2 separate regions of the Homo sapiens genome follow, and region 2 is linked to region 1. Evidence: fine-mapped expression QTL. Tissue or cell type: whole blood. Region 1 holds a variant in brackets; the other region holds the start of a gene. All regions are shown on one strand. Distances are between the middles of the regions.

Evidence for each region. PIP is the estimated chance that this variant, and not a neighbour inherited with it, causes the effect.
Region 2: it holds the start of ASPHD2, and the variant in region 1 is fine-mapped to the expression of ASPHD2 in whole blood (INTERVAL, PIP above 0.99).

Annotation. Positions count from the first base shown.
Region 1 is chr22:26,752,175-26,760,434 of GRCh38, reverse strand. The region is part of intron 2 of MIATNB (MIAT neighbor); the gene reads right to left. Among named protein-coding and RNA genes, the nearest start is that of MIATNB, 83 kb to the right of the region's middle. RefSeq lists enhancers at 6,427-7,424, 7,425-8,260. The variant C/T (reference allele first, on the strand shown) is at 4,706.
Region 2 is chr22:26,426,182-26,434,181 of GRCh38, reverse strand. ASPHD2 (aspartate beta-hydroxylase domain containing 2) reads right to left here and starts at 4,922. Exons shown (of 4, transcript NM_020437.5): 1 at 4,696-4,922; 2 at 1-790. The coding sequence starts at 566. RefSeq lists silencers at 2,745-3,039, 4,772-4,831, 4,952-5,081.

The DNA.
Region 1 (8,260 bases):
GCATTAACTGAGCACCTGCTAGGAGCCAGCCCCTGCTAGGGGCCAGGCCCCAGGGAACACAAATACACAGAGAGAAGCAACAGCCAGGGAAACAAATTTCCGGAAGGATGCTGGAGAAGTAGGAGGCTACACCCATGAGAAATGGGTGATGTTCCCCTAGTGGAGTGTCCGTCTGTCTGTCTATCTGTCCGTCTGTCATCTGGAGGGGCAGGAGGGGCTAAGCCATTTCCCAGCCCCACCACCACCCAGCACAACCCAGGCTCTGGGACAGGAAGCCCCACCAGCCAGCAAGACCCATTCTCCACAGCCGGGCTTCAGCAGAGCCATGACCCGAGGTCTTCTCATCTCCAGCAGCTCTGCATTCGGTAACTGCCCTGCCACCTGCTGCCTTCTGGGTCAGAATCAGTTTTCTCCAACTCCGTCCACCAGTGGACAGCGCCCTCAGCTTCCTGACGCCCTGAACATTCCAGCTCTGGGGCCCATGCCTGATGGGGGAACGGTCTGACCACCACCCCACCCACTGCCTCTGCCATCCCAATGTGAATCTATGTTGCAGAGCTCTTGTCTCAGTTATTAATAACCATAGTAATAGTCTTTATTTCAAAGCACTCACTAAGGGTCAAGTCCATACTAAGCTGGTACCCGCCTCAATTATTTTATCCTCAGAGCCACCTTGGAGGCAGGAACAATAAGTATCTCCACTGGAAAGATGAAGAGACTGAAGTTCAGAGAGTAAGTGGTGGGTAGCCAGATTTCAGCCCAGGCCTGCATGGCTCCAAAGCCCCCTGCCCCACTGAGGGGCAGAGCAGGTGCACTGCAGACAGGGACTTTCCTGAGGCCCTGATCGCAATGGGGAGAAGGCCTACTTTCCCCAGCATGTCCCAGAATGATGCCTGAAGATCCTCAGGCCCAGAGGCCAGGAGCTCTTTTTTGCATTGCTTTTCAAGGGGGAGGTGTATGGCCTTGGTCAAGTGGCTTTCACCTGTCTGAGCCTCAGTTGCATCACCAGTACCAAGGAAGGTGATAACACCTCCTTTCCAGGTGCCTTTTCCTAGCTGGGATCTTCACTCATCTCTGAACCCCCTCACAGAATCCACGTCAGATAAAGTGGCTGTGGGAGCCAGGAGAGACCCAGCAGAGACGATGGGTCCACCTGAGCCACTGCCTCCCTCTGCCTGAAAGCCCAGTGATCCCTTCTGCTTCACTCTGAGGCCCTTGCAGTTTTCAGCAGGACAAAGAAAAACTGTGCTTTGAGTTAAGACACTTGAAAAAAAGTTCATTTGCACAGGGAGTCTCAGGGACTCCTAGCCATGCATCCCAATACCTGCATCCCAAGGGTAGGAACACAGCTGTAAGTTCTGGGTTCAGAGCCTCACACCATGCTGGGGAGAGCGGAGAGCCGGGGCCTCTTCTCAGGGACCTCACAGGCCTTTGTCATCACAGCTGTGTTTATCAAGCATCTTCCATGTGTTCGGACCCCCTCGTTTAATCTCACAGCCACCTCAAGGGTACGTGCGATTATCTCCATTGTACAGATGAAAAAACTGAGTCTCAGTGGCAGTGAACCAAGGAAAGCAATAGCCCAACCAGGATTGGAACCCAGATTGTTTATTCCAGGGTCATTGTTCTTCCCCACAGCTCCATGCCCGACCAGCCTGAGACAACCACCAAGTCCTGACCAGCTCCTTCCACAATCCCTATGGGGGAGCAAATACCTGTCACTTCAGTGGAGTAAAAAGAGGACCAATTTTAGAGTCCCACAGAGCTTAGTTCTGAAAGACAATACCAGAAACACAAGCACCAAAAGAGAAACACGGGTGTGTTGGACTTCCACCAAAACTTAAAACTTTTGTGCTGCAAACAAAACCATATAGTAAAAAGACCCTCCATAGAACGGGAGAAAATATTCCCGATTCTTATATCAGATAACTGATTTGTATCCAGAATATATAAAGAATGCTTACAATTCAACAATCAAAAGACAACCCAACTTTTTTTTCTTCAGACGGAATCTCACTCTGTCGCCCAGGCTGGAGTGCAATGGCGCAATCCTGGCTTACTGCAACCTCCACCTCCAGGGCTCACGTGATTCTCCTGCCTCAGCCTCCCGAGTAGCTAGGATTACAGGCATGTCCCACCGTTCCCAGCTAATTTTTGTATTTTTAGTAGAGATGGGGTTTCACCGTGTTGCCTAGGCTGGTCTTGAACTCCTGACCTCAGGTGATCCGCCCACCTTGGCCTCCCAAAGTGCTGGGATTACAGGTGTGAGCCACCGCACCTGGCCAATCAACCCATTTTTTAAAAAATGAGCAAAGGATATGAATAAGTATTTCTCTCCAAAGAAGATATACGAATGGCCAGTAAGCAAATGAAAAGATGTCTGACATCCTTGGTCATCAGGGAAGTGCAACTCAAAACCACGATGAGATACACTTCCTACCCCCTAGGGTGGCTAGAATCAAAAAGGCAGATAGTAGCAAGTGTTGACAAGGATGCAGAGAAACCCAAATCCTCATACACTGCTGGTGGGAATGTAAAATGGTATAGCCACTCTGAAAACAGTCTGGCAGATATTTGAGCAGTTAAATATCATGTTACCATACGATCTGGCAGTTTCACTGCAAGGAAATTGAAAATATCTATCCGCATAAAACCTTTTCACAGCATTATTCATAGTAGCCAAAAAGTGGAAACAATGAGCAAATGAATCAATAAAATGTGGTATATCCATACAATGGAATATTATTCTGCAATAAAAAGGAATGAAGTACTAATGCACATTGCAACATGGGTGAACCTTGAAATTATACTAAGTGAAATAGGCCAGGCACAGAAGGCCACATGTTACATGATTTCGTTTGTATGAAATGTCGAGAATCTACACAGATAGAGAGTAGATTAATGATTGACAAGGGCTGGAGGGATTGCTAACAGATAGAAGATTTCTTTGGGAGAATTTACTAAAATGCTGTAAAATTGAATTGTGGTGATGGTTGCAGAACTATGTGAACATACAAAAAAAAATTGAAATGTATACTTTACATGTGTGAATTCTATGGTATGAGAAGTCTAGTCTCAACAAAGCTGTAAGAAAAAAAAATTCCAACTCTATCAAACCCCAGAGCTGTGTGTTCTTAGAATAAAGGTTTCCCAGCTTCAAGTCTCAGTTTCCTCCTCTGCAGGATGGGCTAATAAGCCACATCACCTTGCATGAAAATCAAGGAGACAGCACAGCTGGGGCCCAGCACGTAGTAGGCCTCACTCCGCACGAGGTTCCTTCCGCAGAGGGGAAGGGAATGGGGGTTGCCCAAGTAGGGCGCACGGCCAAGGCCATGGCTGGTCCTGGACGGCCAGACGGACTGGACGGAGGAGGAGGCTCACCGCCCATGACATAATGTAGATGGATGGCTCGGGCCATCCGTCAGGCTGGGAGCGGGTGGCCGGGGAGGAGGCCGTGAGGGAGCCCATTACCGTACACGTGTTAACAGCGCATCCTTTGTACAGACAGCCGCGCGGGCGCGGGCCAGGGCCGCTCCCCACATTGTCTGGGCGCCGCGGCCGCGCGGTGATGAATGGGCCGCGCGCGCCCGGCCGCCCCCGCCGCCGTCAGGATACCACGGGCAGAGGGCGACACCTCGTGGCTGTTTACAGAACTGCGGGCTACCAGGCGGGCACAGAGGGCGCAGGTGGGCCCCCCGCGACTTGCCTTTAGTGGGAAGCTCAAGATACTCTGTGTATAACACTTAGCACAGAGCCTGGTGCGTCGTAGGCCCTCAAGAAATCCAGATCATAATTACAACCACCTTTATTTTCAAGGAAAAAAAAAAAACAGGCTAAATGAGGTTCAGAAACGGGGTGAGGGCCAGGCGCGGTGGCTCGCGCCTTGTAATCTCAACAATTTGGGAGGCCAAGGCGGACGAATCACACCTGAGGTCAGGAGTTCGAGACCAGCCTGGCCAGCATGGTGAAATCTCATCTCTATTAAAATACAAAAATTAGCCGGGCTTGGTGGCGGGCGCCTGCAATCCCAGCTACTTGGGAGGCTGAGGCAGGAGAATCGCTTGAACCCGGGAGGCGGAGGTTCCAGTGAGCCGAGATTATGCCACTGCACTCTAGCCTGGGCGACACAGCCAGACTTCATCTTAAAGAAAAAAAGAAAGAAAGAAAAGAAACGAAAGGAAATGGGGTGAGGTTACCAAAAACTGGGTAGCAAATAATTTTTTAGTATATCAAAGATCTCTAGGGGATAGATTTATCTTTTTTAAAAAAAATCACTCATTATTCATCTGAAATTCACTTTTAACTGGGAATGCTGTGTTTTTGCGCTTGTGTTTGCAAACCTGGCGACCCGATAACTGGGTGCCTTTGGACACAGCATTCCACCTCTCTGCTTCTGTAAAATAAGAGAAGCAAGACTCTATCCCTACACGTTTACAACAATAACTACAGGACTGTTGTGCAGATTAAGTGAGAGGATACAGGTAGTGAATATAAAGCCGGTCAGGGTTAAAGTTGCCATGTCCCTGATCACACCTATTTGCAGAGTTTAGGAAAGAAAAGGAGTCCAATAGCCACTAAGTTTAATGTGACTCCAGGCCTTTGTATGCTCTGTGTCCTGCTCCTGGATGACCCTCCCCTCTCTAATGACTCCTGAAGGTTCTCTCTGACGCTCTTCTTCCCAAATCGTAATCCCAACACACATTTC[C/T]TTGGAGCTCTCATCTATTTCATCTCAGACCCCTGCCTCTACCTGTCTTCTACCTGCAGGGAGAGGCAGCGTATTACTCCTTACCTGGCCTGCCTGGCACATACGAGACATTCAACTAACATTTGTGGAATGGGTGAATGTAGACATGGCTCAAGGCTCAGAGAAGAATACCTTATATCATGTGGCGTGGCAATGCCAGAAGGTAAGACCATGAGGGTGGGCTCTGCCCTGTTCCCCTGCTATAGCCCCAGCATCTAGTAGGCACCTAACAAAATTGGTTTACTTTAATGCAAACTGCTAACCTGACTGAGCTCTGTGTCTAATGCGCTGTGCCAAACATTTAATTATTTAAAACTTTTTATTTCCATAGGTTATTGGGGAACAGGTGGTGTTTGGTAACATGAGTAAGTTCTTTAGTGGTGAGCTGTGAGATTTTGATGCACCCATCACCCAAGCAGTATACACTGCACCCAATTTGTAGTCTTTTTTTTTTTTTTTTTTGAGACAGAGTCTCACTGTCGCCAGGCTGGAGTGCAGTGGCACCATCTCGGCTCACTACAACATCCGCGTCCCGGGTTCAAGTGATTCTCCTGCCTCAGCCTCCCAAGTACCTGGGACTGCAGGTGTGCACCACCACCCCCAGCTAATTTTTGTATGTTTAGTAGAGACGGGGTTTCACCATCTTAGCCAGATGGTCTCAATCTCTTGACCTCGTGATCCACCTGCCTCGGCCTCCCAAAGTGCTGGGATTACAGGCATGAGCCACTGCACCCGGCCCAATTTGTAGTCTTTTATCCCTCACCTCCCTCCCACCCTTTCCCGCTGAGTCTCCAAACTCCACGGTGTCATCCTTATGCTTCTGCATCCTCATAGCTTAGCTCCCACTTATGAGTGAGAACATACGACGTCATGCCAAATACTTTAAATATTTTCTCAACTATTAACTTTTCACAATGATGCAGGGAAGTGGTTACTATTATTGTGCCCACTGTACAGATAAGGAAGCTAAGGCACAGCAAGCTGGAGCCTTTGCCCAAGATGATGTAGATGTATGTGGAGGAATCGCACCTGAACCACAGCAGCTGGATCCGGTGCCCACCCTGAAGTTACTCAAGGACTTCAGAGACAGACCTTGACATGAACACGGTTTCCAACCTTCTCCAGTGAATGACCTCAGCAAATCTCTTCTCTCTGAGTTCCAATTCCCTCCATTCCTAAAGTGGAGAGAATGAAATTTCCAACCACACAAGATGGTGGTAAAGAACAGAAACTGTTCATGGAAAATGCACACAGCAGGTGCTCAATAACTGATGGTCTTCCTGGAAAATGCACACAGCAGGTGCTCAATAACTGATGGTCTTCCTGGTGATCACCGAAGCCCTGAGAAAGCAGCTTCTTAGGGCCACCATTTGCAAAACAGCACTTTGTGGTTGCTAATTCCTCATAGAGAGAAAAATAGCTGGAGAGATTTCCATTAAGATTTTCTCCAGAAATCAGTGCCCCTGGCAAGCTGCAGGGCTGAGGAGTGCCTCTAAGGTACCTGGAGTTCCAGTCCACAGGTGGAGGCTGGGGGAAAGGGAGGGAGGAGTAAGGCAGGGATGTCTTCAGGGCCCCGGCTGAGTCCCCTCCCCACCTCCACGCAAAGGACAGAGGAAGTGGGATGAAATCGGGGGCACTTTGGGGGCTTGAGGCACAGTGGGGTGACATTCTGTCTGAATCAGTATTCCTTTTGCCCTGATCCTGCACCACGACCAGCCAATTTCTGTCAATTTACTCTTCCTACCTAAAATTTCACTGGTTTCTTACCTCATTCATTCTTTATTCATGCATTTATTCAATAAATTTCAGTTGGGTATCTGCTATGTGCCGGCACCATTCATTCTTGGCACTAAGGATCCAGTGATAAACAGACTTGGTTTTTGCCCTTCATGGGGCTCACAGACTAAGGTGGGGGCAGGCAGGGGGTATGGAACAGACACTAAAGATATAATAATTAGATCGGAGTGACAGGAAAGCCGAGGGGGCTGCGAGCACTCAGGAGATCAAGGAAGTCTTCCTGGAGGAGGTGACATTTAGGTGGAGATGAGGAGAATGAGTGGGGGGTGAGTCATCCAGGGGAGTGGGGCAGAACACTCCAGAGAGAAGGGGTTGGTAGGCAAAGGTCCCAGAGTGAGACTGAGGACCTGCAGGGGATGAAGTGAGCATGTGCCAGCACAGGGAGAGATGAGGCTGCTGAGGGAAGCAGGGCCAAGGTGGATCTTGAAGCCCTAGTGAGGATTTATGGCTTTTGCAAGGGTATTGGGGAGCCACCGAGGGTTTTATGCAAGTGGAGTGGCATCATCAGATTTCCAGCAGCATTAAATACAAACTCTTCTCCCATCTGCCCCCTCCTGGCTAGTATCGCTCCTCTCATGCCCTCTACTCCCCTTAACCAGGCTCCTCCTGAATCCCCAATGTTACGCTAACCTGGCTACATCTTCCGCCTGGACATGCGCATCTTGGGCTGCACCAGGGCACAACGAAACAAGCCCCAGGTTTGGATCAAACAGACCCAGCTTCAAACCTGGCCTCTTTGGCCTCTGGACCACCTGGATCAGGTCCCTAATGTCTCTGAGCCCCAGTTTGCTCATCTGTAAAATGGAGATCATCACTGTCCACCACTAACAGTGTCCTGAAAGGACCTGGCTCTGACACTTACTGTTTTCTTTCATCTGTTCCAGAAGCATGCCACCTCCTCCAGGCAGCCCCCCACCCTTCACTCCTCCAGCCCTCTGAACACCAGAAGCACTTCCTGTTTGCCCCTGCCCCCGGGTAACATGCATAGAACATAGCTGTTAAGAGGTGCATCCCTCCAGCAATCAGAAACCATTTGGGGTCAGAGCCCAACGGGTCTTTCCCAGCAGATCCTGGGAGTCTGTCTGCCCAGGGACAGGACAACTCCTTAAAGCAGGAGAGAGATGGACAGACAGACAGAAGGGCTCTGGGGAGCTAAGTGAGGTCCCAGGGAGTGTCGAGACTCCATGTGCTCATTTTCTGGGGTGGATCAGGATCTGGGAAATCACTCGGAAAGCTGCACCTCTTAGGCCAGACTGATAAACAGGCTGCCAACTTACAGTGGGGAGCACGATCTCCCGCTGTGACTGCATCCCCCAGATGGTGGCTGAAGGGCTCAGGCCTCAGCAAGTGATGGAATGGGGTGCCTCAGGCAGGAGAGGAACTGCACCCGGCCCCACCCCAGCAGAAGGGTCCCACATGTCCACCATTCCTGCTCTCAGGAAGCCAGGGTTCCCACCCCTACCCCCAACAGTCTCCCACTGACACCTCAGATGCCCACCTTCCTGCATCTCAGCAGTCCTGGGCAGCCAGGAAGAGACGCTGGCTTTTGGGCTTGCATGACACAGGGTTGGGGGGGTGGGTCAGGATAAGTCCTGGGGCTCTGGGGGGCCCTCGGACACAGAATGCAGAGGGCTGGGCAACATAGTGTCCCCCACACTGGTCACCTCTCCCAGGTCTCTTCCTCAAGCACACCTCAGACTCCCCACCCCTCTCTGAGCA
Region 2 (8,000 bases), 330 kb after region 1:
TCCACATCATGTTTCTGTGCGTCCCGGGAGAAATAGGGCGTGGTGGGCAGGTCGGGCAGGAAGAAGACCTCGGGCTTCTGGATGGAGGGCCGGCTGTTGAGGTACCGGCCCTGCTCGCGGATGCCCTTGTGGATGCGGCCCATGCCGGACCAGGAGTAGCGCTTGGCGTACTCCTGCAGGTTGTGGTACAGCTTCTGGTTGAGGCCCTCGTTGTGGGTGCAGCGCACGCACTCAGGGGACTGGCAGTACACGTAGCCATTCTGCAGCCCGTTGGCATCGGCAGCCTGCATGAGGGAGTTGACGGAGACGTAGGGCCGGGGCTGCTCCCTGCCCACGTGATAACAGTACCACACGAAGAGGACCAGGAGGCAGGCCACAGTGATGACAGCGGTGGTGTCGCAGTCCCGCACGGACTGGATGCCGGTGGCGATGCAGTCCCTCAGGCCATCCAGCGACCAGCTCCAGGCCACCAGCCACTCGAGCGACATCTTGGGGGAGTCCTTACTGGGCGTGTGAAGCAAGGTCAGACAATCAGTCCTCGGGGGTCCCAAGGGCGCCCACACCATGCAGATTAGCGTGGGGGGGAAGGAGCGGCTGGGGCAGGGGGAGGCATGGCTGCCACCGATCCTCAGATACTGCCAGGGGCGGCATTGATGAACGACAAGGTTGGCCGTGCCCACTGCTCCACTTTCCGGCAAAAGTCACTGCAGTGGGGTGGAAGAGGCTGGTTTTTGTCACATTATCAAGTGCCGTCGGTCCCTGTGAAAGGATTTGTTTAGGAAAACCAAACCTGGGATGGAAAAAAAAAATCAGCATAAATTTTACACCTGGAAAAGTCCTCAACTGAAATGTAAAGTGTTAGATCGTTCTGTAGGATCCTAGTTGGTGGGGGTCACACTTTGCAATCTTGTGTATTCCCTCCCCATTCTACTGCCACTCCCATTTCCCAAAAGGCCAGTAGTATTTCATCTGCATCAGGTACTGCTTATAATTACAGTGGTCCCATCTGCTTTGTGCCCTCCATAGGAGGTGCTATTATCCCCATTTTACAGATGAGAAAACTGAGGCTCAGAGAAGTTACATAACTCACGAGAGTTATACAGCCAGGGCAGAGACTCAAACCCCATCTGACTTCAAGGCCCATGTCTACCCATTTTGCTGTGCTATTTCATCATAGGTATTTAATCAATGCTTATACTCCTGTGATCGCTGTACCTTTAATTCAAAAGAATCCTGGATTCAAAAGCATCTTAAAAATGGCAAAGGGACTTAAAAACTGCATATTCTCCATTTCACTTTCTCTTTGCAAGCATTTCATCATCCTTATTTCATTCTGTTGCCCTTCTGACAGAGGTTGGGCTAATACCAAGTTGGAAGAGGAAGTAGGCACTCTTGAGGTCATGCCTGCGGCAAAGGGCATTTTCTGTCTACCCACCTGGAGACTACCTATGGTCTCACCCATAGGGTCATGAAAGGAAAATGAGGGAGGTAGAATGAAAATAAAAGCCCTTCCAGGCCTCTGCCTCAGTTTCCCACAGCTGACAGCATCTCCAAAACAGCCAGAAGTGCTTTGCCACTTACCTAGCTGGGGGTTAGGGACAGAGCCCGGAACTCTCATTGTCCTAATAACCTAAAAGGGCCTGAATGTCATGCTGCCTAAGTCTCTCAAACCCCAGCCGTGTTTCCCAGCATTCTCCAAAACCTTTTGTTCATCCTGCTTCTTCTAATACAATGAGAACAGCCAGGTCTCTGCTTCTACAAGTCTGATACTCAGGGAGCACAATTTCAAATATCCCTTTTGTACTCTACCCTCTCACAGCTTAAAAAATGGAAAAGTTGTACCCTCCCTTTACCCAGGGACTGAAATTTGGCCTGAAAATTCTTGCAGCATCGTAGCAGAGAGAAGCCAGATTAGAGATGGGCCCAGTTGAGGATTCATCCCAACCTTGGGCAGATCGCTTTTCCTAAGCCTGTTTCTTTTCTTTTGAGACGGAGTTTCACTCTTATCGCCCAGGCTGGGGTGCAATGGTGCAATCTTGGCTCACCACAACCTCCACCTTCCAGGTTCAAGTGATTCTCCTATCTCAGCCTCCTGAGTAGCTGGGATTACAGGCATGCGCCATCACACCCAGCTAATTTTGTATTTTTAGTAGAGATGGGGTTTTTCCATGTTGGTCAGGCTGGTCTTGAAATCCCAATCTCAGGTGATCCGTCCACCTCAGCCTCCCAAAGTGTTGGGATTACAGGCGTGAGCCACTGCGCCTGGCTGCCTCAGTTTCTTTATCCATGAAATGGGGTTCGTGTTCATCTCACTGGATGAAGATGAATGATGGCGGATGGACAGCACTTACGACCACGTCATAATGAGCACCCAATATATGCAGGCGACGGCTAGGATGGGTGGCATCCCATAATGAGTAGCCAGCGTTCCAAAGGTGGGGCACGAGAGAAAGGTATAGCAAGACTCGGAATTCCAACAGTTAAAGGTAAATCCTGGACACTCTTGTTGCCTCATGTATTGAGTGGCTTTTTTGTCCCCAGACTTGCTAAGCTAAAAATGAAAGGGAAACCTTAGGTGCTCATTAACTGCCTACTTGCTTTTTCCCAGTTTCGGTTGAATAATCACTTGACTATAATGTTTAGTAAGTCAAAAACACACATGCTGAATATTCATGGAAATTTTTTATGTTTCTAGGAAAAATACAAGAGTGGGGAGGTTAGAAGCTAAGTTGTTTTTTGTTTTCTTTTGTTTTTTTTTTTTTTTCTTTCCCACACATTCTCAATTTCTTCTCAGATTCAGGAGAAGAGGAAAAGGCTATGACTCACTGGAGGTTAAGAAACCCCTTCAGCCCCCTGTTTCTCTCCTTGTTAGACCATAAACTGGCAGCTGTTACTCTTTAGGAAAAGGAAAGAAAATCCAGATGAAAGATGTTTTGTTTGCAAGCCATCTCCCAAACAGAACCTCAGAGTTCCTGAAATTCAGTGTGAAACAATCATCTATGTGACACCAAGCACTTTTACTAAAAGGATTTCCCCCATCACTGAGCTAAACCCCTACTGGAACTTTTCAACTGAGTCTGTCAGGAGGAAAGGTTTTTTTCTTAAATGTTCTAAGAGTGAGACGGTGATAATTTAACAAGCACCTGTAAAGTGTTAGTTCCCATCAGCCCTGCTGATCACTTAAGTCAAGCAAAATGCAGACACAGAAAACAGGGTGGATGATGGAGAAACCTCTCCACTGGACACCCCAGCCCTGTACTCTTCTCAGGAAAGCCTCCTTCTGTACTAAGCCAGCCATGAGCCCTCCCTAAGGCTGAGCTGTAAGCAAAAGAATGTAAAAGATTCTGAACCCCAGCTTCAGACCCTCCTCCCGAGATCATAAATAGCACTGAGAGCTCAAGTTAGGACTTTTCATACCTGTCAGTCACTTTTAGCCAAAATATGCCAACAGGCCCCTGCACCCGGAGGTGGATTTACAAGCTCAAAGCTGAACTATGACAATAAAAGAAACACATTTGCAGAGTGACTGGCAGTTTATTAAGCACTGCTTCAAACATTTGATCCTCACAGCTACCTAGTGACAACTCCCCATCTACCCAGTGGGGAGAGGAGAGACTCTCTCCCCCGACAGCTCCTTGCCCAGTGACCACAGTAGCTTCCAGCTTCCTTCGCACATCTGTTCATTGTCATCTGTGTTATTTCTGTCCTCATCAGGGATGGGGACATCTCATTGCAGCTCTGCACTTTAATAATAAGCAACCCCAGATCTTCCAGCTCAGTTGGCTCTGGGGAATTGAGTCCAAATCCATGGCCAGTTGGAGAGCAAGTCCAATCCAAGACAACTTCTCACACCATGAACACCTGGGAGAGCCGGTGTCAGGCCTGACCTGGTCAGCCTAGTTCAGATGTCCATTCCCAGAGGCTGCCTAATGCCAAAGAGTGTCTGCTCACCCTCAGGATGAGGCCAAGTCACCCTGGAAGCCCCCCAGTGAGCAGCACTGGGCAAGGTGTGTGATGCCTGTCACCCTCTCCACTCAGGAGCCAGAGAGATGCCGTGGGGCCAGCCCTTCCCGGTGCAGACCTGGGGACCTTCCCTCTCTTGGCCAGCTTCTCAGCACCCACCTGCCCTGGAGAGTGGGAAAGAGGGGAGGGCTGAAGATGGGTTAGCACAGATGGTGACCACCAGGAGGTCAGGGGAGGAGGGGGATGGGACGATGGAAAGGTGAGTGTTGCCCGGAAAAGTGGACGATCAGCTCAAGATTGTGGAAGGAGGTTTATGGCGCCTCATAATTCGTGGGACAGGGGAGGAGGGTCACCACGTGAAATATGGGAAGTGGGTGATGCTGAGGGCTGGGGGAGGGGACAGGAGGTGAGGAAAGAGGGGTCACAGGGGAGAAGGGAGATGGAGGAAGGGACCACGATGGGGCAGGGAAGAGGAGTAGGAGGAGGTCTAGGGAGGGTGATGCCCGGCTCCGAGGCGGCGGCGCTTAGCACGTACGAGCACTGGCCTCGGCCGGGCCGGGATGCGGGCGCCCGGGTCCCGGAGCATCCTCGGCGGGGGCGGCGGCGGCGGCGGCGCCGGTAAGGGAGGGCCGTGGGCCTGCAGCTGCCGGGCTCCCGCCTCCAACCCCTGTCCTGGGGTCGGCCCAGCCGCGCCGCCCTCCCGCCCCGGCAGCCCCCGGAGACGAAGCTTACCTGCGCCCGGGCGCGCGGACGGCTGCCGGGACCCAGGAGACGCCGCCGCCCGAGGGCGCGGACCCGCGGACGGCCCCTGCCCGGCGCCGCGGAGCCGCCGCCTGGCTGCTGCCCAGCCCACGCCGCGGGAGCCCGAGCCGGAGCCCGAGCCCGAGCCTAAGCCGCGCCGGTGCCCCTGCCGGTGCCGACGCCGCGCTGCGCTCCGCGGGGCCGCGAAGACCACAACTCCCACAATGCCGCGCGCGCTGGGCCGCCGGGGGAGGGGGTACGGGGGGGCGGGGCCTGCGGGGCGGGGCCGGGGACCCCCCTGCACCCGGCACCTGCGCTCGCAGTGCGGGAGGCGACCCGAGGCCGCGCCCGCCGCCGCTCCGGAGGGTCCTGGCAGTGCGCCCCGAGACGCAGCGCCCGCCCAGCCCGAGGTTGCGCGCAGGCGGCGACGGGCGTGCAGTCATTCATTAAGAAAGGCTCGCGTCGCTTCCTTCGCTCTTTCGTTTTTCGCTCTGTGTCTTTCTCAGTTCTCCCTCCCTCTGTCTCTCTGTTCCTCTCTGAGTCGCCCTCGTCTCCATTTCCTCCTTTTCATTCTCTTTCACTTCCCCCCCACCTCACTTCCTCTCGCCCTAACGCCTTCTTTCCTTTATTGATGGACTCAACACGGACTTCTGAGGCCCTCAGGCACTTGGAATGGAACCGCAAATCAAACCAGATTCTTAGTCTCATGGAAAACTCATTCGCTCAGTACAGTAATGATGGGCCAGCCTGGGTCCCCGTCCCTGCCAGCTGCGCTGAGCGTGCGCGGTGAGCGCTCAGGCCCGCCCTGCCCTCAGTGAGCCACCGTCTAGCGGGAGGGGACCCTCACCCCCGGGTAGGGTTTAGGAGGGGAAGTACAGGCAGGACGGTTGTCTGACCAGGGGACTGATGAGCTGCGAATGGAGGCCCCAAGGAGGCTGCTTGGAGGAGGTGACGTTTGAGCTAAGACCTGGGGGAGACTAACAGTGGCTACGGGATGTGTTAGGGGCGCCAGGGAAACTGCATGGGTGGGTTCTGGGAGCATAGAGTAGGATGGCCCGCCCACAATCCATCTGTCTCTGTCCCAGACCCACCTCTCTTGTGTCCCAGAATTTATCTCTAACATGGCCCAGAAGCCACCTCATGTCTGTCCCAGAATCCATTTCTCATCCCTATTCCAGAAGCCACCTTCACCCTGTTCCAGAACGTACCTCCTTCCTGTTCCAGAACCCACCTCCCTCCCTGTCCCAGGACCCACCTCCACCCTGTGCCAGAACTCACCTCCTTCCTGTTACAGAACCCACCTCCTCCCTCTTCCAGAACCCACCTCCTCCCTCTTCCAGAGCCCACCTCCTCCCTCTTCCAGAACCTACCTTCTTTCTGTCCCAGGACCCACTTCCACCCTGTCCCAGGACCCACCTCCTCCCTGTCCCAGGACCCACCTCCACCCTGTCCCAGAGCCCACCTCCTCCCTATTCCAGAAGCCACCTTCACCCTGTTCCAGAACATACCTCCTTCCTGTTCCAGAACCCACCTACTCCCTGTCCCAGGACCCACCTTCACCCTGTGCCAGAACCTACCTCCTTCCTGCTACAGAACCCACCTCCTCTCTCTTCTAGAACCCACCTCCTCCCTCTTCCAGAACCCACCTCCTCCCTCTTCCAGAACGCACCTCCTCCCTCTTCCAGAACGCACTTCCTCCCTGTCCCAGGACCCACCTCCTCCCTGTCCCAGGACCCACCTCCACCCTGTGCCAGAACCCACCTCCTCCCTGTTCCAGGACCCACCCCCTCTCTGTTCCAGAACTCACCTCCACCCTGTTCCAGAACTCACCTCCTCCCTGTCCCAGGACCCACCTCCTCCCTGTCCCAGGACCCACCTCCACCCTGTGCCAGAACCCACCTCCTCCCTGTTCCAGGACCCACCCCCTCTCTGTTCCAGAACTCACCTCCACCCTGTTCCAGAACTCACCTCCTCCCTGTCCCAGGACCCACCTCCTCCCTGTCCCAGGACCCACCTCCACCCTGTGCCAGAACCCACCTCCTCCCTGTTCCAGGACCCACCCCCTCTCTGTTCCAGAACTCACTTCCACCCTGTTCCAGAACTCACCTCCTCCCTGTTCCAAGACCCACCTCCACCCTGTCCCAGTACCCACCTCCTCCCTGTTCCAGAAGCCACCTTCACCCTGTTCCAGAATGTACCTCCTCCCTGTCCCAGAGCCCACCTCCACCATGTCCCAGAACCCACCTCTCATCTCTGTCCCAAAATCCACCTGGTCCCTGACCTAAGAATCTGCCTCTACTGTGATAGCCTAAAATCCACCTCCTCCCTGTTCCAGAACCCAGTTTGTCATGTCCCAGAACCCACTTCTTCCATGTCCCAGAGTACACCTCTCCCATGTCCCAGAATACACCTCTTCCATGTCTTAGACTCTTCTTCATCTCTGTCATTTCTCTCCTTTTCTCAACTCCAAAAGAGGAAGAATGTTTTTTCTCTTTTATTCTACTAAAATAAACCAAAACACTTGCATTGGGAAACCATAATATGCACAGATTTGCTCAAAGTGTGGATAATCAACACAGGCATCAGATTTAGAAACATTAAATGGGATGTCTGTCTTCACTGTCAGCCTAAGAGTGGTTGAGCCTGGGTGGGGTGGAGAAAATGGAGTGGGGGGTATTTGACTCATCTCACATTCAGAAAGTTGCTCAAACTTAGAATTCTCCAAAGGCAGTCATACATTCTATCACAGCATTATCCTGGCAGGTTTGAAAAAAAAAAGATATTTTTATATTGTAAATATGTGTTCCATTCCTGCACCATCTTATCTGTACTGTATTATGAATTAATATTGTCTATCAATCCTATAAGTGTCCTTGACCAGTGCAATTATATGATATCTGTAGACCACTGCTCTGCATTTGTTAGTATTTATTTGTTCAATGGCAATATTACTATACACGCAATTTTGTTAGCCCTGCTTACCATTTCTTCATCTTTTTAATTAGCTGGGAGTCTCAATAAATGGAAATGACCTGGGCCTCTGTCAACCCCTTGGAGACCCTACTAGGTGAATTCTGCAGAAAAGGATATCCATGCCTTTCAGAGGGGGATTTTGGGTGAGAGCTCCAGATAAATTGTTACTGTGCTCATGGAGAGGCGGAGAGGAGGACCAAGGGCATCTGAATTGCCTGCCTTCAGCTTGGCTGCCACCTGCATCCTCCTGCTCTCGCTGCCTTCTTTAGCGCAGTCATCCTACCCACTCCGAGACTACACAACCTATCATTACACCGTCTCAT